Homo sapiens: one gene and its partners. The protein of the gene in region 2 purifies or fractionates together with the protein of the main gene of each other region. This does not show direct contact. Each region holds a gene or a part of one and is shown on either strand. Other genes may lie near its edges.

Region 1 (7,034 bases), on a different chromosome or scaffold from region 2:
CGCCTATAAATCCCAGCACTTTGGGAGTCTAAGGAAGGAGGATCTCTTGAAGCTACAAGTTCAAGATCAGCCTGGGCAACATAGCAAGACTTCGTCTCCCCAAAAAAAAATTTTTTTAAATAAATTTAATAAAAATTTTTTTTAATTAAAAAAATTTAAAAACCATCCACATTGGCTGGGCACGGTGGCTCATGCCTGTAATCCCAGCACTTTGGGAGGCCGAGGTGGGCGGATCACGGAGTCAGGAGATCGAGACCATCCTGGCTAACATGATGAAACCCTGTCTCTACTAAAAATATAAAAAATTAGCCGGGCGTGGTGGCGGGCGCCTGTAGTCCCAGCTACTCGGGAGACTGAGGCCGAATGGCGTGAACCCGGGAGGCGGAGCTTGCAGTGAGCCGAGATCACACCACTGCACTCCAGCCTGGGCGACAGAGCGAGACTCTGTCTCAAAAATAAATAAATAAATAAATAAAAACCATACACATATATATGCTTAAATAGCCTTTCTGGCTTTTGGATTCAAAATAGACCACAAATCCATGGATTAAGAAACACCGTGGGCAGAGGTTTTCTAACCTTCTTGGAAGAACCATTTGCTGGCTTTTAAAAAGTTAAATATCTATATAATTTTCCTTTTTTTTTTTTTTTTGAAACGGAGTCTCGCTTTACCGCCCAGGATGGAGTGCAGTGGTGCAATCTCTGCTCACTACAACTCTGCCTCCCGAGTTCAATCGGTTCTCCTGCCTCAGCCTCCCGGGTAGCTGGAAATACAAGCACCCAACACCACGCCTGGCTAACTTTTTTATTTTTAGTAGAGACAAGGTTTCACCATGTTGGCCAAGCTGGTCTGGAACTCCTGATCTCAAGTGATCCACCGCCTCGGCCTCTCAAAGTGTTGGGATTACAGGCGTGAGCCACCACGCCTGGCGCCTACATGATTTTCTCCGAAACAATCCTGAAATACTCCTAACCCAACTTTTGGTTGCAGAAGTAAGGTTTTTCAGGGAACTAGCATCAGAAGCTGCTGTTTCTCACCTAAATGTACATTCCTTGCCCCTTTTACATCATGACATTTGAGAAAGACCTATTCTGGACCTAAGTGTTCTATAAAAGTAATTCTGATTGTCTTCCAAATAACTGTCATTACTTTTAAGTTTCATATATAATAACGAAATTAAAAATCATCACACTATGTGAATTACAACCAGTAATGAAAGTCTTTAAACAATTTTTGCAATGATCACAGATTAAGTCAAGATAGTGTTTTACAAACCCATTATAAAACAGGAAACCTTCGGATGATTGATTCCTCTGTATAAATGCTGAGTAAACTCAGTAATGTTTAAAACTGAGAATAAGGTTAGAAGTAGGAAAAATCTGGAATGTTACTATTTCCTTTCTCAACTTACCCGTAATCTCCACCCTCGCATACACATTCCTCCACTCTAACGTATTAAAATAAAAATGCTGATAAGTTTATCTTTCTCTCTCTGGCCCTCATTTAGTCAGCACGAAGTTACACAATGTGCAAAAGTGAACACAGATAGAAACGTAAAGGAGGTAAAGTGTTCCAAAAAGATCAAATGAATCAAAAAGCTCTGAAACAGACTTGGTAAAGACACCAGAGTTGTTTTTTTTTTACCCCTCCCCCCCCCACTTTAAAAGGCAGCAACCGGAATAAATCAAGATAAAAACAGAATCACAAAAATAGTGCAGGACTGTGCAGATTAAAACTTTACAATTTTCAACGTCAAACTGCAATATGATAAAGCAACAATATTACTTAAACTGTTTATGAATATTTTTTCTCTAACAATCCAAGTCAACTTCATATAAAACACAAAGTTTCTGTACCAGCAAAAATACAAATGCTAATGAAACTTGGGCTTCTAAGGTATTATTACAAATCAGACTTAACTGTCTTAGATTTCATAAGCTTAACCCAATCCACAGCACGTTAATATACCCAATGAAGCAGTCTTAAGAATAACGCTATAGTGTGACACATGGGGAATTACCAAAGAACAACTTAAAGTATACTGACACAGGGAGAAATAAGCGGTTCTGATGATTCAAAGTTACACTCGTCTCACAGACCTAGTAATGACGCTAAAGGGAACTTTAGTGACACACCCAGCGCCGACCGCCACGTTAAGGATACAGCTCTTCCGAGGTGGAGAGGGCTCTCGCCAGCTCTGACTGCTGCTGAACCCGGATCCTGCTCCTCCTCCCAGAGGAGGTCTGCACCCCGGCTTGCCTCCTCGCTCACCCACTCCTCGCCCCCGACTCCAGCGACTCCCACCCCGGTAAGGCCTGCCTCGAAAGCGGAAACGGTCCAAGGCGAGGTGGCTCCGCTCCCAGAAAGACGGCCGGGGACTGCTTTCGGACAGTGAGCTCGAAGGCATCCGTACAGAAGGCGGATGAGACCGGAACGGTTCTTTGGGTCGGTAGCTGCTGGGTCCCCTGAGGTGGCCCCGCTCAGACGCGTGCCGCGAGCGTGAGAAATTCCTCAGCTGCTGCTGAGAAGAGGACGATGACGAGGAAGAGCCACCGCCTCCGCCAGATCCACCGCCCCGGGCCGAGTGAGGAGGCCTTCGCCGCGGATAGGGTAACAGCCCGCCGCCGCTGCTGCTGCTGCTGCTCCGACTCCGTATCTGGCTGTTATTATCGTCGTCACTGATTTCCCCATCTTCAAGCTCCCCTTCTTCCTTCGGCGAGAGGCCACTGGAGGCCGGGGCCGGAGTATCTGCGGTCGCCATCCGGGGAGCAGCGCCTTCCACACAACCTTAGCCCTCCGTCCGGGGATCCGCCCGACAATTGCCTCGTTTCCCTTCTTTCCTAACGGACTGGGTCGGTGCGGTCTTACCCTACTCGGACACCAAGCGGCCTCTGCTCCCCAACTTCCCCGCACCCCAGCACCCCAGCTCTCTCTCGCCGGACCGTCGCAACCCAGTTCCCTTTCCTAGCGCCCCCTTGCTCCTCAGCGATCGGGGTTCTTCCGCCTCGCGAGAAAGGGACTCTGGTAGCGGCTGTACCCGAAACGTCACTTCCTGCGACACGCAGGAAACAAAGGCTCCCAGTTCACGCGATAATAAGACCAACTCGATACTCACTAGGATTTGTAGTCTTTCGTCTTTCTTCGGGTTTACTCTTCCGGTCCTAGGGTCACACCCACCGCAGGGTCTGGCTTGGTACAGTTGGGTGCATGCAGAAGTAGGTGGAGCTGCTGTTGCAGCCTTGAGAGAGTTTTATTGTAAAACTCTTGTAATTTATAGTAATCGGAGGGGAAAACACCTCTTCCTTTTAATTGCTCTGAGGACCGCTGCCAAAGAAACGCAGTAGATCCGCTCCCTCTTGGGGGCGGGGAGAAAGAACGGGTTGTGTCCGCCATGTTGGTGAAGTCAAGCGAAGGCGACTAGAGCTCCAGGAGGGCCAGTTCTGTGGGCTCTAGTCGGCCATATTAATAAAGAGAAAGGGAAGGCTGACCGTCCTTCGCCTCCGCCCCCACATACACACCCCTTCTTCCCACTCCGCTCTCACGACTAAGCTCTCACGATTAAGGCACGCCTGCCTCGATTGTCCAGCCTCTGCCAGAAGAAAGCTTAGCAGCCAGCGCCTCAGTAGAGACCTAAGGGCGCTGAATGAGTGGGAAAGGGAAATGCCGACCAATTGCGCTGCGGCGGGCTGTGCCACTACCTACAACAAGCACATTAACATCAGCTTCCACAGGTAACCTGGGCAGGGAGTGGGGGTGACGGAAACTGGAGTTCCTATTGTGGCTATCGCTTGTGTGGAAGGAACAGGAGGATTCTGCTAATTCTAATAACTTTCCCAGCTGGTAGCAGGGAAGCATCGTATGTCCTTTGTGTTTCTCAAATCTGCCCAATTGTTCTCTGCTTTCGGGGAAGCTTTACTCATTTTCTAAAAGAAATCCAAGTACTGTTTGGTCATTACCCCTTAGTAAAAAAAAGTAACAGGAGGATATCGTAATTTTCTACTGTTTTATTCCTCTGTTAGACCGGGCCTTGACATGAATGACGCCGTAAGGGAGAAAGAGATCTTCCCAATCAGCAATCACCGTAAAAGCCTGCTGTGTTCCCGTTAAAATTAGGAAATTCTCACTAGATGAATTGACATGGGAGGCATTTAGATTTCTAATAGTCACATAGTAATTCTGCGGAGGAATTGAGTCATCTTTGATAGCCATGGAATTAAGCGATGTTAATTAAAGTGCAAAAGATAACCTTTCTGTTCTTACTAGAATAGAGTAATAAAAAGAACCTAGGTTTTCTTTTGTTTGCTGGAAGAAAAATCAAAATTCTTTAGTTCTGTCAAACCAGAACTCTTGAAAGCACTTTGAACAATGCCTGGAAAATAACAGGTACTCTGTAAATGTTTACCTTCTCTGCAAGTGCCTGCCACGTGCCCGAAGAAAAGACACATTAAAAAGTTAAGTGACACCAGTCCTGATTTTATATATTTTATATACCTAACAACGTATATGTTAGTATGTAGAAATTATATCCTTGACCTTTTTCCCTACCTATTACGAACTGTACTTTTATTAAAAGCTGCCACTTAAAAAAAATCTTGTGATGTTTCTGTTTTTAAACTAGTTCATGCATATGTAGTGCTTTGTTCATTCATCCATCAAATATGTACGGAGTTCCTAATTACCTGACATTGTGCTAAGGATCCAGAAAGTTCTAACCCTCCTGGAATTTAGAATTTAATGGTGGAGAAAGACATAAATAATTAAGTGCCACAGAAGAAACATTCAGAGACCTAACTTAGTCTTGGAAAGTCAAAGAACACTTTTTCAAAGGATGTGACATTTCAAATGAGACCAAAGGATGACAGATTGGGTCCTGTGTGCTACTTAAGTATTTTCTGTTTTATCCTAAGAGTACTTGAGAAACCATGGAGGGTTTAAAAAAGAATGGCACGATTAGATTTGCATATTGAAAAGTCCTCTGGCTGCAGTGTAGAGAATCGTAGTGTTACTGAAAGTGCTGGTCAAGCATCATCGGGAATGAACTTGATGAGAAAGGAACTTATTACAGAATATTAATTTACCTATTTTTTTCCTTCACAGGGAAATCTTGCTACAATGTCAACTAAACTAAACCCTTTACTCAGTTGCTGGCACAATCAGCATTGAATTAGGGAATGTGTGAGCTGACAGAGAAAAACTAGTTAGGAAGCTGTAGTAAATAAAACAAGGAAAGTCCACCCAAATTTCTAGACTAGGGTGATATTAGAGTAGAAATGGAGAGGAGGGGACAGATTGGAGAAATGTTCAAGGAGAAACTACTGAATTTAGTAATTTGATTGGATAGATGAGAGAGGGGAGTCCAGACACCAATAACAATGTTTAACCCAGTGTGGTGGCTCACACCTGTAATCCCAGCACTTCGAGAGGCCAGGGCGGGCTGATCACTTGAGCCCAGGAGTTTGAGACCAGCCTAGGCAACATGGTGAAACCTCGTCTCTACAAAAAAATACAAAAAAATCAGCTGGCCCTGGTGACGCATGCCTGTAGTCCCAGCTACTCCGGAGGCTGAGGTGGGAGGACTACCTGAACTGGGGAAGTTAAGGCTGCACTGAGCCATAATCATGCCACTGTACTCCAGCCTGGGCAATACAGTGAGACCCTGTCTCAAGAAAAAACAAAAAACAAAACAAAAAAAAAGAGATGGATGGTGGTACAATAACATGCATAAAATTTGCCTACTATGAATTTAACATTTTCATGTGTAACCTCAGAAATTTAGGTCTTAAAATAGTATTCATTATAATAAAAATACATTCCTATTTTGTAAATACAAACAAGGATTAATTGATTCACTCCTTTTCTACTGGGACATTAGTAGACTTTTTTTTCTTTTTCTTTTTCTTTTTGAGACAGAGTCTCATTCTGTCACCCAGGCTGGAGTGCAATGGTGTGATCTTCGCTCACTGCAACCTCCACCTCCTGGGTTCCAGCAATTCTCCTGCCTCAGCCTCCCGAATAGCTGGGACTACAGGCATGCCCACATGCCTGGCTAATTTTTATATTTTTTAGAAGAGATGGGGTTTCACCATATTGGCCAGGCTGGTCTCGAACTCCTGACCTTGTGATCCACCTGCCTCGGCCTCCCAAAGTGTTGGGATTACAGGCGTAAGCCACCACGCCTGGCCATTAGTAGACTTCTGTATCTCTATGTGCAAGTTATTTTGCCTAAACTTACTGTCTCTATCTTTCTTACCTCTTAGCCAACTCAAGTCTTAAGTCTCCCCAGTAATCTTCTGAAATTGCTCTTGCTAACATGACCTTAATGTCTCTCTACATTCATTTTTCATGGTATGTGATCATTTCCTCCATGAAATACTCTCTATGACACTAATTTTATGATTATCTTCTGACTTTTTTGGCCTGTCTTCAATCTCTTTTGCTACTCTTCTCTCTACTCCTTAAGCCAGGTCTTCACATTCGTATCAGAATAATTTCAGCTGTTCTGTGGTCTCAGCATCTACTTGTTGATGCCTCCCAAATCAGTATCTCCAGTCCATCTCTGTCTAATGAGTTCCAGACCTATAGGCCAAGTGTCTACTCAGTATTTCTCTGGTCTCCTTTTAGTTACCCAGATTCATTATCTATATTAACAAACTGCCCTTCCCCAAACTTACCCCCACTTCCTGTACTCTGCTTCTCAGTAAATGAAGATCTACCCATCTGGAAACTTGGAAGTCTTCCTCCCTTGACTTCTCACCATTACCCCTTGATTAGATTATTACAGTAGGCTCTTAACTGGCTCACTGCTTCCATCCATGCACTCCTAGGCACTCTTCTGTAATCAATAGTATGTTGCTAAATATTTAATAAATGTTCTCTAGGGAGGGGGAAAAGCCCTGATTTGTAGTGTTTCCCCACCTTCTATGATGTAAATACTACTACCAAGTCTAGTTTCAAGCTATCAATATGACATCACTGATTATGGAGTTGGAAAGAGATGTGCAGTTTCACACTATTTTAGTATTTCCACCATACA
Region 2 (7,108 bases):
TGTAGAAGCCTCCCTGTAAATGGGTACCAGACCAATAGTAAGTATATTCTGAGGTTTTCATCACAAGCCTTTGTTTGAAGTGTCTGCGAGAGTTATCTCATCAGCTTGGGAGACTTTGATTACAATTAGCCTCAAAAGGCTTCTGCAGGTTGCCTCTCTGCTTTGTACCCACCCCCAGCCCCTCAGCCAGGAACAGTGTCCCCTTTAGCAGCACTAAGCAGGCAAGGAACCCAGATATAGTGACTCCAACCACCAATGCAGGCTTGAAGATTCTGGTTCAATTTTAGTGAAAAATACAAGTGTTCACATTGAAAAATAGTTAAGATCCCAAAGGGAAGTGACAAGTGCGGAGTATTCTGAAACATTTATGAATGAAAAATGTTCTCCTAAACTCCCCTAGTTAAAAACCCAAGCCTCTCTAAGAGGTTAAACCACAGTCCTAAACCCATCAACACAATGGTCGGAGAACTGAGAAGCAACTTGATGGCTCGCCGCCTAGTGGCAGCGCAGGGTGACACACCAGCTCACTAAAATCTTCCCTTCCTTTGGGCTTTAGATAGAAACCACCTTTTCCTAAAGTTTCCAAATTCTCATTTAAAATAGCCTACTCTCAGCTACAACCAGCAAACCAAAGACATGAAAAGGTCAGATTTTGCTCCCAGTTTAGTGACAGTGCTGCCAGGCATCTCTGGAACAGGGCTCAGGGTCAGTGCAGCAGTCTTTCCAAAGGGCTGTGAGGGCTATATCAAAGATTTTTCGTCATTCCCAAGAAACAGGGTAAATTATGGAGGTGGCGACAGTGTCTATCTTGGCTCCATGTATTATCATCCCAAGTAGACAAAACCAAGTGAAATGGGTTGGCAGAAAATCAATTAGTTTTCTGAGACCTCTCTACCCCTGGCAATTTAATTAAAACTGGAAGTTGCTAACAAGAAGTTAAATCAAACTAGACTCAGAGCAGCAGAAGAAACCCTCACCACCATCACCACCACCATCACCACCAATTTATTTCCTTCCACTGGGCAGCAACTATGTTTCAGCCTGTGGATAGGCAAATGCCTTGAGCTCTCCAGCAGAGGCCCTATGCCTGGAGTCCAGGTGGGAGTGGGTGTGTGGCACCCTTATTGCTGGGCACATCCACGGGTGTCCAGAAGCCATTCCTATTCACTGATTCAGAATAAAAGGACACACTTGTTTATGCAATTAAAATAATTATGCTCCTTGAAGACTCAATTGAGGTTCTGATACAGGTGGCAGCGATCAGTGCTTGGTAACCTCTCCCATCTCTGTAGGAAATGGGGTTTTGTGACTCTCTCATGGTGATTCTACTTGCCCGGCTGATTACATTAGCTGAGCCACTTAAAGAAGGTAAAGTGTGCCACTTTGAGACTGTCCATCTTGAGAAATCAATTCAGGAGAACTACCTAGATACTGGAGCTCTTGGGCCTGTGGGGATCCTTTTGAGACCCACAGAGGAGGAAAAGAGACCAGCAGGCAGCCACTCTAAGCCAGGAAAGATAGGCTACTTCTAGAAGCCAGATCTTGGGAAGAGGCAACTCAAAGAATCCTCTCACACTAGAGTCACTCATCCTTTACAGCTGGGACAAGAAAGGGATAAGAGCAGCAGGCTAACTTGGAGTCATATTTAGACACAGAGCCACAATGAAACGTATCCCCTATACCAAGCATCTGAGGGCAACACCCTCTCTTTGGTGTGGTTGGGCTGAATGTCTTTGGTCTGCCTAAAATGAATGAGGTAGAAGGTAATGAAGGAGATGAAAAAGAAAGCAAATTACAGTTCCTCACACATTGTCTGCTCCTCAGTGACTGCTTACTGCATTGAATTAGGCAGATCAAGGCCACCAGAGGCATTCTGCTTCCTCCAAGAACAAAGGAAAAGATAAGTTGGGGGCTTGAACAAGGTCACCATCATCCACAGTGACTTAAAGGATGGGCCAATTCCATGGGACAACTCAGGCTGGTGAGAGAAGATGAGCAGAACCAGGAGAGACGACTTGGGGGACCAGAGTAGGGGACAGGAATGGGCTGGAAAAAAAACTGACCAGAAAAATGAACATGGATAGTTCTTGGACTCCCCAAGAGCAGCCCTCCAAAGCTGGCTTCCATAGGCTGCATGAAGTAAAATGAGCAAAGATTCACAGGTTGGACAGACCTGAGCTGGCATTTTTAGCTTTGTAACCCTGGGGTAGTCACTTACTCTCTCTGAACTCATTTGTCATTTCTCTTATACGAGTACTATGAGAATCAGCTTCCGTGTATGGAAGTTCAGACTGGAAGACTGTAACTCACCCTACAAAAGTGGGTTAACATTTGTGCAAAAAAGGGCTGCCATTGCAGTCCAAAGGTGCTATTTTCAGAAGGGTCTGTTTGCAGGGTTGGCCCTTGGCTGGCATCCGGGAACCTGGCTCCCAGGCAATAGTAAACTGATGGGGGTAGTCCACTGTGCCTATATTGTGCAAATAATATGATTTATGCTGAACATTTGCTTTCCTTTAGAAAACTTCATTATGTATTAAGCATCGAGTGTCTATGTGACCAGCTCCCAGTAAAAATCTTGGGTGCTGAGTCTCTAATGGGCTTTCCTGGGCAGAAATGTCACAAATAAGTTACTGCATTTTCACTGCTGTAATAAACCTTAGCTGTGAGTATCACTATATGCTAAGTCTAGCAAATCTCTGAATGTGGAGGTGGTCTTGGGGATCTTGATACAGGGTCAACATTATATACCTACACCCAGCATGAGCCCACAGAGATCCTTACCCACTTCAAGAAGGCCTGGCTTCCAGAAGCAAAGTAATTGATAGAAGACGGGACCTGGCCAGCAACCAAATAAAAAGCCCCGACCCCTAGAATGTGGAGCTAATAATACTTATTGAACTTATTGACAAAATAAGGAGAAATAACACTTATTGAAAGCCCACTGGAAGTCAGTCACTGTGCTAGGTACTCACTCTATTCATTTCCTCTTCATCACCATGGTATTATTTATTATCCTCATTTTTTAGATGAAGAAATTTGGCCACAGTGAGACTGAGTAACCAGCCTGAGATCACAAAGCTGGCCAGAGAAGGAAGTGACATTCTGGCCCAAGGCTGGCTGCAGACACTGCAGAGCCCTCTCTCTTCTCAGCACCCATACTGCCTGCCTAGCTGCCACTTCCTCAGCCTGTCAGGCTGCTTGGCTGACCCTAGGCTTCATCTGTCAAGCAAATCATGAACAGTTTTCTGCAGAACTAGAGTAGGAAGAGAAACAGCACATTTTAGACCAAATGATCCTTACTGTGTATATTTTTCAAAGCACCATAACACAATCATTTCATTTGACCCTCATCACAATCATGTGCTAGGCTGCCTGGCAAATGTCCTCCTTTATCGGACAGGGAAAACAAGGCCAGCAATAGCCAGGTGGTTAAGACTAGGGCAGGACTCAAGCCAAGAGTCCTGACTATGTACCTGGCACATAGGAGGAGGTCAGCAAATGCCTGCTGGATGGCTGAATGATAAGTATAAAAGTGGGTTCAACAGCAAACCAGAGGTTCATTTTCTGAATCTTCATCTTTAAAATCATTTATCTTTAGAAATATCTGCATAGACAGTACTGACCAGTCAACAAAGAACTCCAAGTAGCCTTCATTTGGTTTCTCCAGCTTCGGCGTCCCCATTTCTGCTTTCACTCCCACCAAGATGTCTGTGTGACCCTGCAGACACATGCAAGAAGAGTCCTCACTCAGAGTATGCAGCCAGGTACTCCACCACCTCCCTCCTCTTCTGGACATACACCCCTGGGGGACTCTTTTAGGAGCAGTGCTAAGACTTGGAAAGTGGTCTTTGGAGGAGGTGAGCAGTCTTTTCAGATCTGGATAGACCCCCCCTCCCTGAGTTTGGCTCGGATCTTCGATTTCCCCAAGAGCAATTTGCATTCCAAAAGCCAGACAGCGTCAGCAGCTCATTCCTTAGGGCCTACTCATTTCTCCACCTGGGCTTGAACCATGGTCACAGTACTCACCAGCTTGACCCTGGCGGACCCACTAGTGTTGGACACCACATCAGTTTCCACTTCGACACATCGGTAGTCCTCACAGCCACGGCCATCCACACGGAGGTCTTCCTAGGTGTTAACAACCACAGTCCTATAGTCACCCCAGATCAACAATAACTCCTAAACGGACTCACCCATTTTCCCCCTAGAGAAGATATATGCAGAATATCTCTTTTCCTCTTAGTGGATCATCTAAAATTCTGTCCTTGTAGCTAACAACAACATTACTATTTTACATATGAGGAAATGGAGACTCAGAGAAGTTGAGCGACTTGTCCAAGGTCCTACAGCTAGTGAAAACAAAGCTAGTTTTCCATGCCAGTTGTGTCTGATTGCAAAATCTATACTACATACCACTATATAGAATATGCACACAAAAACAAGATCTGAACAAGAGACAAAATAAGCCACCTCTCTCTAAATCTGCAATTCTTAAATTGCACCAAGAAGTATATGTTGTCAGAGCTACAGAGTACAATCATCTCAACTGAAGCCCTCCTACCCCTAAAACTCAACAAGATCTACTGTGTAAATAGTGAAAGACACCTAATCTTCTAAAGAGGCAGTCTCTAGAACAGGGTCAACAAACTAAGGTCCCTTGTTTTTGTAAATAAGTTTTACTGGAACATAGCCATGCCCACTTGTTTAGGTAATGTCTATGATTGTTTCTGCACTACAAAAGCAGAGCTGAGTGGTTGGGCCAGAGATATGACCCATAAGGCCCCAAATCTTTACTATCCAGTCCTTTACAGGAAGTTTGCTGACTCTTTTGGCAGAAGATGGTTTTCAGGGTGGTCTACGCGCTGCCTGTTCCTTCTGCCCATTTATTTACTCCTTCAATTACTTGTATCAGTACAACTCATTGGTATCTTTTATGCTATGGTTATAATCCACTACTATCATTAGTTATTTTGCTGCTCAAAGTGTTCCAAATTTGGCCACTGGGGGCTTCTTTGGGTTAGTTTTTGTGCTCTTTCAACATGCCTCCAACTTTTTGAGTAATTATCTACTTTCTGCAACACAAGATATCTATCCTCTTGTGTCTTCTCTGCCCAGCCCTAGGGATCAAGCCTTTCTCCAAGGAGCCCTGGTTGCTTTTATTGGGGAATGGTACTTAAAACCAGGAACTAGGCTCTAAGTTCATTGCTGTTGGAGTATTATTTCTTCCAGAACTTCTCAGCAGACAGAGCTAGAAAATACAGTTATGTATACTAACCACCCCCACCACACACACACAAATCTGTTTAATTCTGTATCTATCTACATATCTATTAAAAAGCCAAGAGTTCATACTGATAGATCAATTCCAATCTAACATCACATGGTTCATTCTAACCTTCCTCTGTTTCTTATTTGTAACTTCTTTCTCAAAGAAGGAGAAAGCTGGCTCTTATTATCTAACATGTATTTCTGTATTTGTTCAATCTTAGTATACACAGTTTCTGAACTTCTAACCCATACCCCTGTGAGAAACAAATTTACTAATAGCACACAGTATTTGTGTAAAGTTCTGTCTTTAGCCTCAGAGTATCCAGGCAAAATACTGTTTTCCAGTTACTTCAGTTCTTTTCTTCTACGTGCCCTTCAGTGTGGTTACATTACTCACTTGTAACACAGGCTCATTTGTAACTTGTAACTTTTTTTTTAGACTATGGCTCTGTCGCCCAGGCTGGAGTGCAGTGTGGCACAGCTCACTGCAACCTCCGCCACCTGCGTTCAAGCGCTTCTCCCGCCTCAGCCTCTGAAGTAGCTGGAATTACAGGCACATCACCATGCCTGGCTAATTTTCATTTGTAAATTTTTGTTTTCCATTTTGGGTTCCCCCACATCATGGTTACTTTTAATTACTTATTTACTTTCTGAGTTTGTGAGCTATCACTATAGTTCTGAGAGAAAACTCAGAAAAGTATGCTCAGAGAAATGTCACTCTCCTCCGTATTATGCTATTTTCATGCCCCTTTCTTCCCATTCACCCTAGGTTTCTCTTCAGTTTCAGGTTTATCTTTCTTGTATTTTCTCTGCACAAATAAGCAAATACATGAATTTTTTAATATCTCCTTGTTTCTTATATGAAGGGTGGAATACTATAGATACTCTTACTTTTTTTTTTTTTTTTAACACTTAACTATATATATGCAGGAAATCATTCCACGTTGGCTCATGGAGCTCCTTCTCATTCTTTGTAAACATTTTTCAAAAGCAGTTTTTTTCAGAAAAAGAATCATTAGCTTAATCAGATTCTCCAAGGAGTTGATGCTTCCCAGAAACATAAAAAATAAAATAAAACACTGCTCTAAAGTATGTGACTGACAGTTTATCTTTAAACTGCCTGGCTAACTGCATATGTGACTGACTTTTTTGAGAAATTAAACAGAAAAAAGCAAAACACTGCAGCACCACACAGTACCAATGATCACCCTCTGCCATACTTGCTTCAGGTCTTTCACCCGTTTAACTTTTCAATGACAGAAAATAAACATCACAAATCAGGTGGAAGGTCCTGTGCAGCCCATCCTTCCCCCAGCACCTTTCCTCCCTGGAAGATATTGAGAGGTGACAGCGTGCTGGCAGCCCTCACAGCCCTCGCTTGCTCTCGGCACCTCCTCTGCCTGGGCTCCCACTTTGGCAGCACTTGAGGAGCCCTTCAGCCCGCCGCTGCACTGCGGGAGCCCCTTTCTGGGCTGGCCAAGGTGGGAGCCGGCTCCCTCAGCTTGCTGGGAGGTGTGGAGGGAGAGGCGTGGGTGGGAACCAGGGCTGCGGGCAGTGCTTGCGGGCCAGCGCGAGTTCTGGGTGGGCATGGGCTCAGCGGGTGGGTGTGGGCTAGGCGGGCCCCATACTCTGGAGCAGCCAGCTGGCCCCAGGCAGTGAGGGGCTTAGCACCTGGGCCAGCAGCTGCTGTGCTCAATTTCTTGCTGGGCCTTAGCTGCCTTCCCACGGGGCAGGGCTCCGGATCTGCAGCCTGCCATGCGGGAGCCTCCCCGCCCTCCCACCCCCACCCATGGGTGCTCCTGTGTGGCCCCAACCTCCCCAAGGAGCGCTGCCCCCTGCT
Region 3 (7,000 bases), on a different chromosome or scaffold from region 2:
GATCAATATAATCAAATTGCCCTTCTTAAATGTTACACCAGTTATATTCCTGTCACCAATGTATGAGAGTGCATATTTTCCTATAGCCTTGCCAACACAATATGTTGTATTTTTTTATCTTTGCCAATTTGATAGATGAAAAATGGTATCTTAGATTGGTTTTAATTTGCATTACAAATAAAGCTAACCATTTTTTCGTATGTTTGTCACTTATGTATCCCTTTCTGTTAACTATATTCTTCGCCCATTTTTCTTTTGGATTCAAGATCAATTACTGATTAATTTGTAAAAGCTCTTTACATATTAGGAAAATTAGCCCTATGTTTTTTATGAGTTCCAAATGTATACCTTTTTTTTAAATAAAATGACTTGGTGGCAAAGAGTTTTTTTACTAAATGAAATTTTTGCTAATTTATCTGTCATCAAGATTGATATCACAGTTCAGTGCCATCCTGTAGGATTTGCAAGACTTTGCTCTAATTTACTGAGCTAAAAAGACTTGACTCTATCAGTGTCATGCTTTTCTAATCAAAATAGAGGACATGGCCGGGCACGGTGGCTCACGCCTATAATCCTAGCACTTCGGGAGGCCAAGGCAGGTGGATTGCCAGAGCTCAGGAGTTTGAGGCCAGCCTGGGCAACACAGTGAAACCCCGTCTCTACTAAAATAGAAAAAATTAGCCAGGCATGGTGGTGCACGCCTATAGTCCCAGCTACTCAGGTGGCTGAGGCAGGAGAATCACTTGAACCAGGAAGAGGTAGGTTGCAGTGAGCCGAGATCGCACCACTGCACTCCCACCTAGGCAACAGAGCAAGACTCCATCTCAAGAAAAAAATGGAGGACATAAAGTAAGGTTTGTAATGTCACATATGAACTCATTTCAAATTTGTTCAGAGCTCAACAGTCCCCAGTCTAACTTTGTTGTTTTAATTTAAAATATTTTTTGATTTAGTTGTAAGGTGGTTGGATTGACAAACCAGAAACCTGTAGCTTTGTAATTTCTTTTAAGTTACAGTTAGGTCAAATTCCACTTGCTTCAAAAATAGAAGACTTAGGTGGGGCATGGTGGCTTACACCTGTAATCGCAGCACTTTGGGCAGGAGAATTGCTCAAGTCCAGGAGATTGAGGCAGCAGTGAGCAGTGATCATGCCATTGCACTCCAGCCTGGGTGACAGAGCAAGATCCTGTCTCAAAAAAACAAAAAACAAAAAAAGCCAGATGAATTTGAATAGTGATGTTGTCAATGTTACTGTTTTTGTAGGTATGCTGTAAGCATCATGTGGGAACTGGATAAAGCCTCTTATGAAATTAAGAAAGTGTGGTATGGCAGAACCATTATTCGATCAGCATACAAACTGTTCTATGAAGCAGCCCAAGAACTACTGGATGGAAACTTAAGCGTTGTTGATGATATTCCAGAATTCAAAGACTTGGATGAGAAGAGCAGACAAGCCAAGCTGGAGGAGTTGGTGTGGGCAATTGGAAAGCTGACCGACATAGCTCGCCATGTCAGAGCTAAACGAGACGGATGTGGTGCCCTGGAACTGGAAGGGGTAGAGGTTTGCGTACAGCTAGATGACAAAAAGAACATTCACGACCTCATCCCCAAGCAGCCCCTGGAAGTCCACGAGACAGTGGCTGAATGCATGATCCTGGCCAACCACTGGGTCGCCAAAAAGATCTGGGAGAGCTTCCCTCATCAGGCCTTGCTGCGCCAGCACCCTCCTCCACACCAGGAGTTCTTTTCAGAACTCCGGGAATGTGCTAAAGCCAAAGGCTTCTTCATAGATACACGGTATTCCTCTTTTGAGGGGGCAGAGGAATGGAGTGGCATGCTGTATATTTAGTTATCTTACAGTTGTTCTTAAAATGTGACAGCCAGATCTTTGACCAAAAAGAGAAAACAGATTCTTGGCTCTCCTCATTTTTGAAGACACATTTTTCCCTCTTCATTGTTATGTATAGAGACTTAAAACAAGTTTATTTAGGCATAATTTTGTTCCTTGGTTTTTTGTTTCAATTTTTTTTTAGATAGAGTCTTGCTCTGTCACCCAGGTTGGAGTACAGTGGTATGATCTCGGCTCACTGCAACCACCACCTCCCAGGTTCAAGTGACTCTCCTGCCTCAGGTTCCTGAGTAGCTGGGACTACAGGCACACGCCACCATGCCTGGCTAATTTTTTTGTATTTTTAGTAGAGACAGGGTTTCGCCATGTTGGCTAGGCTGGTCTTGAACTCCTGACCTCAAGTGATCCACCTGCCTCGGCCTCCCAAACTGCTGGGATTATAGGCATGAGCCACCACACTGGACATTTAGGCATAATTTTGACCCACTACAATTTGGGTTTTTTTGTTCGGTTGGTTTTTTTTTTTTCTTTGAGATAGAGTCTCGCTCTGTCATCCAGGCTGGAGTGCAGTGGCACAATCTTGGCTCACTGCAACCTCCGCCTCCCAGGTTCAAGCGATTCTCTTGACTCAGCCTCCTGAGTATATGGGATTACAAGCATGTGCCACCACGCCTGGCTAATTTTTGTATTTTTAGTAGAGACAGGGTTTCACCATGTTGGTCAGGTTGGTCTCAAACTCCTGACCTCATGATTCGCCCGTCTCGGTCTCCCAAAGTGCTGGGATTATAGGCATGAGCCACTGTGTGTGGCTGACCCACCATAATTTGTAATACAGAAGTAGGGAACCTGTTAGTTACCCTTGATTTAATTTCATGTACCCCTTAAGTTACAAAGAAATAATCCTATTTATTTCAGTACTTTTAAAATGCAGCATCTTTGTGACAATATCATAAGATACTACACCAACAGTGAATTTATACCACCCTCAATTGAGTGAGACATTTTTACTCCCTATCTCTAGGATAAAATACTTCTTTCATTAAAAACCAAGTATAGGCAGGCTGGGCACAGTGGCTCATGCCTGTAATCCCAGTACTTTGGGAGGCCGAGGCGGGCAGATCACGAGGTCAGGAGATCGAGACCATTCTGGCTAACACGGTGAAACCCCATCTCCACTAAAAATACAAAAAATTAGCCAGGTGCTGTAATCCCAGCTACTTGGGAGGTTGAGGCAGGAGAATGGCATGAACCCGGGAGGCGGAGGTTGCAGTGACCCAAAATCGCACCACTGCACTCCAGCCTGGGTGACAGAGCGAGACTCTGTCTCAAAAATAAATAAATAAATAAATAAAAACTAAGTATAGGCTGGGTACAGTGGCTCACACCTGTAATCCTAGCACTTTGGGAGGCTGAGGCAGGCACATCACTGAGGTCAGGAGTTCAAGACCAGCCTTGCCAACATGATGAAACTCTCTCTGCTAAAAATACAACGAGCCAGGCATGGCGCACTCTTGTAATCCCAGCTACTCAGAGGCTGAGGTGCGAGAATCGCTTGAACCTGGGAGGCAGAAGTTGCAGTGAGCCAAGATTGTGCCACTACACTCCAGCCTCTGTATGGTCACTGTATGAGCTGTCTGCATGCCAGGCACATGGGACAAGGGCTTTCAGACATCCTCTTGGTTAATTCTTAATGCTGAGGTGATGGCAGCATCATTCATATTTACAGATAAGTCAATTAAGTCTGAAGAGATTAAGTAATTTGCCTGTAATTTAACAGTCAGGGCAGAGCCAAGATTTGAATCCAAGTCTGTTAAACTTGCAAGCTCACATAGTGACCACTTAACACCTTGCCTCTCTGTTCATCATCATGCTCTATTTCTCCTTTCCCCCTTTTCCCTTAGCCAGCCACAATATAGGACTGAATTATATGTTATTAGTTTTATTTTTAATATACCTCTATATTTCCTGGGGCTTTGAAATTATTATTTTGAGGCTGTATGCAGTGGCTCACACCTGTAACCCCAGCACTTTGGGAGGCCGAGGCAGGAGGATCACTGAAGGCCAGGAGTTCAAGACTAGCCTGGGCAACAAAGTGAGACCCTGTCTCTACAAAAAAATTATTTTGAGAATAAATAAATAGAATGCTTACTACCTCTTTAAAAAAGAAAAACTAATTTAGGTTTCTTTTACTTGTACACCAAGTCCATTATTTTACCTATATATAGAATGTTTAAGGTTAAGGATGTAAAGAATTCAATTCAACGAGTATTTGACCACCTATTATAGCCAAGCACTAACTTAACCTAGTATTAAAATCAGTACATGATTCATTTCTACTTAAGAAATGTATTTAAATTCTGACACTCTTGTTTTGTTTAAGCCGTAAAGCAAACTAGATTTCTGTAGTTGAAAAGAGGTGCTTCTGAAACGTGTCCAAAACAAATTTACTGGCAGATGAAGGTATTCAGACGGATGAGTGAAGGGTTCCCCTCAAAGTGTTGTCTTGTAAATTACTGTCTGGGACTAGCTAACGGTTTTTCTGTTCTTTGTCAGGTCCAATAAAACACTGGCTGATTCTCTGGATAATGCGAACGACCCCCACGATCCCATTGTGAACAGGCTACTGCGCTCCATGGCCACGCAGGCCATGTCGAATGCTCTGTACTTCTCCACCGGATCCTGTGCGGAGGAGGAGTTCCATCATTACGGTGAATCATACCATATTCCTATGTGTGGCTGTAACTTTGCGCTAGTTATTTTAAAATAGTTTTTGTTTATTTTGATCTTTTGCTTTCTTTTTGAAGGTCTTGCATTAGATAAATATACCCACTTTACTTCTCCAATAAGAAGATATTCAGATATTGTAGTACACCGCTTGTTAATGGCAGCCATTTCAAAAGATAAGAAAATGGAAATTAAGGGAAATCTGTTCAGCAACAAAGATCTTGAGGAATTATGCAGACATATCAACAACAGAAACCAAGTAAGAGGGAATTTCAAAATTCTCTTACCTGTCATCTCTTGCTAAGAAAATATCAGCTTTATTGTGTAGTACCGTGAAGTATCATATATTCTAGCAAATTAAATTCTAGAATTATTCTAACCAGTGCTTTCAGAACATTTGTAGATGTTCTCAGGTAACTTGTGGATTTGGGAGATTTGACGGTAGATTATCAGATTTTTTTTTTTCCGAAAGGTGGAAATGTAAAGATTCAAGCAACGCATAAAGATATGATGACAGAGGCCAGACGTGGTGGCTCACTTGAGGGCGGATCACTTGAGGTCAGGAATTTGAGACCAGCCTGGCCAATATGGTGAAACCCCATCTCTACAAAAAATACAAAAATTAGCCGGGTGTGATGGCACGCGCCTGTAGTCCCAGTTACTTGGGAGGCTGAGGCAGGAGAATCTCTTGAACCCAGGAGGTGGAGATTGCAGTGGGCCGAGATCACACCACTGCACTCTAGCCTGGGTGACAAAATTGAGACTGTGTCTCAAAAAAAAAAAAAGATATGAAGACAGAAACATCACCTGTTATCTTACCACCCAGAGCTAACAATTAATGATTCTAGACACTGCTAACATTTTTATTTATAAAAATATCGGCCAGATGCGGTGGCTTGCACCTGTATTCCCAGTACTTTGGGAGGCTGAGGCAGGTGGATCACGAGGTCAGGAGATCGAGACCATCCGGGCTAACACAGTGAAACCCCATCTCTACTAAAAATACAAAAAATTAGCATGGTGGCAGGCGCCTGTAGTCCCAGCTACTCAGGAGGCTGAGGCAGGAGAATGGTGTGAACCCGGGAGGCGGAGCTTGCAGTGAGCTGAGATTGCACCACTGCACTCTGGCCTGGGTGACAGAGCGAAACTCCGTCTAAAAAAAAAAAATCACACCGTGCCTGCTGTTTGAATCTGCTTTTTTCATGTAACCCAACTGTTATTGATAGCACACCATGTTATATCATTGTTTTGAAGCTGCTTTCTATTCTATTTCATATTACTAGTTGCTACAAGATTGCACAGCATAGAACTAGACTATTGGGTAACGCAGGAAATTGGAAACTACCTAAATGTTTAATGTAATTTTCTATATCCAATGGTATAGTTGTCTGCTGTGCAATGTTGTAGCACTAGCCATGTGGACTACCTAAATTTAATTAAAATTAGAAGTAGAAATTTGTCTCAGTAGAAATTTGGCCAGTGTCTCAGTCACACTGGCCACATTGTATAGCTCAGTGGCCACTTGTGGTTAGTGGCTACATATTAGGCAACACAGATAGAGAGCATTTCTATCATTGCAGAAAGTTCTGTTGGGCAGCACTGTTCTAAGCAATCAAATTTATAACCATCCTTATGGATACACTTATACAGACATTTCAGATGATTTCCTGGAAAAATTCCTAGAAATGGAATTGCTGAGCCAAAAGGTGTGCATGCACAAATGAAACTGATAGGTCAGGTGCAGTGGCTCACGACTGTAATCCTAGCACTTTTCGAGGTCGAGGCCGGTGGATCACCTGAGTTCAGGAGTTCCAGAGCAGCCTGGCCAACATGGTGAAACCCCGTTACTACTAAAAATACAAAAATTAGCCAGGCATGGTGGTGCATGCCTGTAATCCCAGCTAATCGGGCGGCTGAGGCAGGAGAATCACTTGAACCCGGGAGGCAGAGGTTGCAGGGAGCCAAGATCGCGCCATTGCACTCCAGCCTAGGCGATAGAGTGAGACTCCATCTCAAAAAGAAGACAAAGAAACTTTAATACATATTACTAAATTGTCTTCCTTATCAGTAGTGCTAATTTAGACTTCCACCAATAGGGTTTTCATTGGACAGGCTTGAAAAGAAAGAAAGGCTGGCCGGGCGCGGTGGCTCATGCCTGTAATCCCAGCACTTTGGGAGGCCGAGGCAGGCGGATCACGAGGTCAGGAGATCAAGACCATCCTGGCTAACACAGTGAAACCCCATTTCTACTAAAAATACAAAAAATTACCCGGGCGTGATGGCAGGCGCCTGTAGTCCCAGCTACTCCAGAGGCTGAGGCAGGAGAATGACGTGAACCCAGGAGGTAGAGCTTGCAGTGAGCCGAGATTGCACCACTGTACTCCAGCCTGGGTGACAGAGTGAGACTCCATATCTCAAAAAAAAAAA

The links. Proteins that work in one complex are often made in the same cells at the same time.
Region 1: the proteins of EXOSC7 (region 2) and ZFC3H1 purify together in Homo sapiens (affinity purification with mass spectrometry; 3 studies listed by BioGRID and IntAct, with this or other methods). This does not show direct contact.
Region 3: the proteins of EXOSC7 (region 2) and DIS3L purify together in Homo sapiens (affinity purification with mass spectrometry; 5 studies listed by BioGRID and IntAct, with this or other methods). This does not show direct contact.

The regions. Positions count from the first base shown.
Region 1 is NC_000012.12:71,660,849-71,667,882, forward strand, and holds the start of ZFC3H1 (zinc finger C3H1 domain-containing protein), read right to left. Parts: upstream 3,001-7,034; 5' UTR 2,763-3,000; coding exon 2,165-2,762; intron 1,975-2,164; exon of another isoform or gene 1-1,974. Other genes in the region: THAP2 (THAP domain-containing protein 2), read left to right, coding at 3,662-3,732. UniProt on the Homo sapiens protein: Subunit of the trimeric poly(A) tail exosome targeting (PAXT) complex, a complex that directs a subset of long and polyadenylated poly(A) RNAs for exosomal degradation. The RNA exosome is fundamental for the degradation of RNA in eukaryotic nuclei.
Region 2 is NC_000003.12:44,986,160-44,993,267, reverse strand, and holds part of EXOSC7 (exosome complex component RRP42), read right to left. Parts: intron 4,129-7,108; coding exon 4,027-4,128; intron 3,719-4,026; coding exon 3,624-3,718; intron 1-3,623. UniProt on the Homo sapiens protein: Non-catalytic component of the RNA exosome complex which has 3'->5' exoribonuclease activity and participates in a multitude of cellular RNA processing and degradation events.
Region 3 is NC_000015.10:66,324,568-66,331,567, forward strand, and holds part of DIS3L (DIS3-like exonuclease 1), read left to right. Parts: intron 1-1,263; coding exon 1,264-1,797; intron 1,798-4,402; coding exon 4,403-4,557; intron 4,558-4,653; coding exon 4,654-4,832; intron 4,833-5,045; coding exon of another isoform or gene 5,046-5,057; exon of another isoform or gene 5,058-7,000. UniProt on the Homo sapiens protein: Catalytic component of the RNA exosome complex which has 3'->5' exoribonuclease activity and participates in a multitude of cellular RNA processing and degradation events.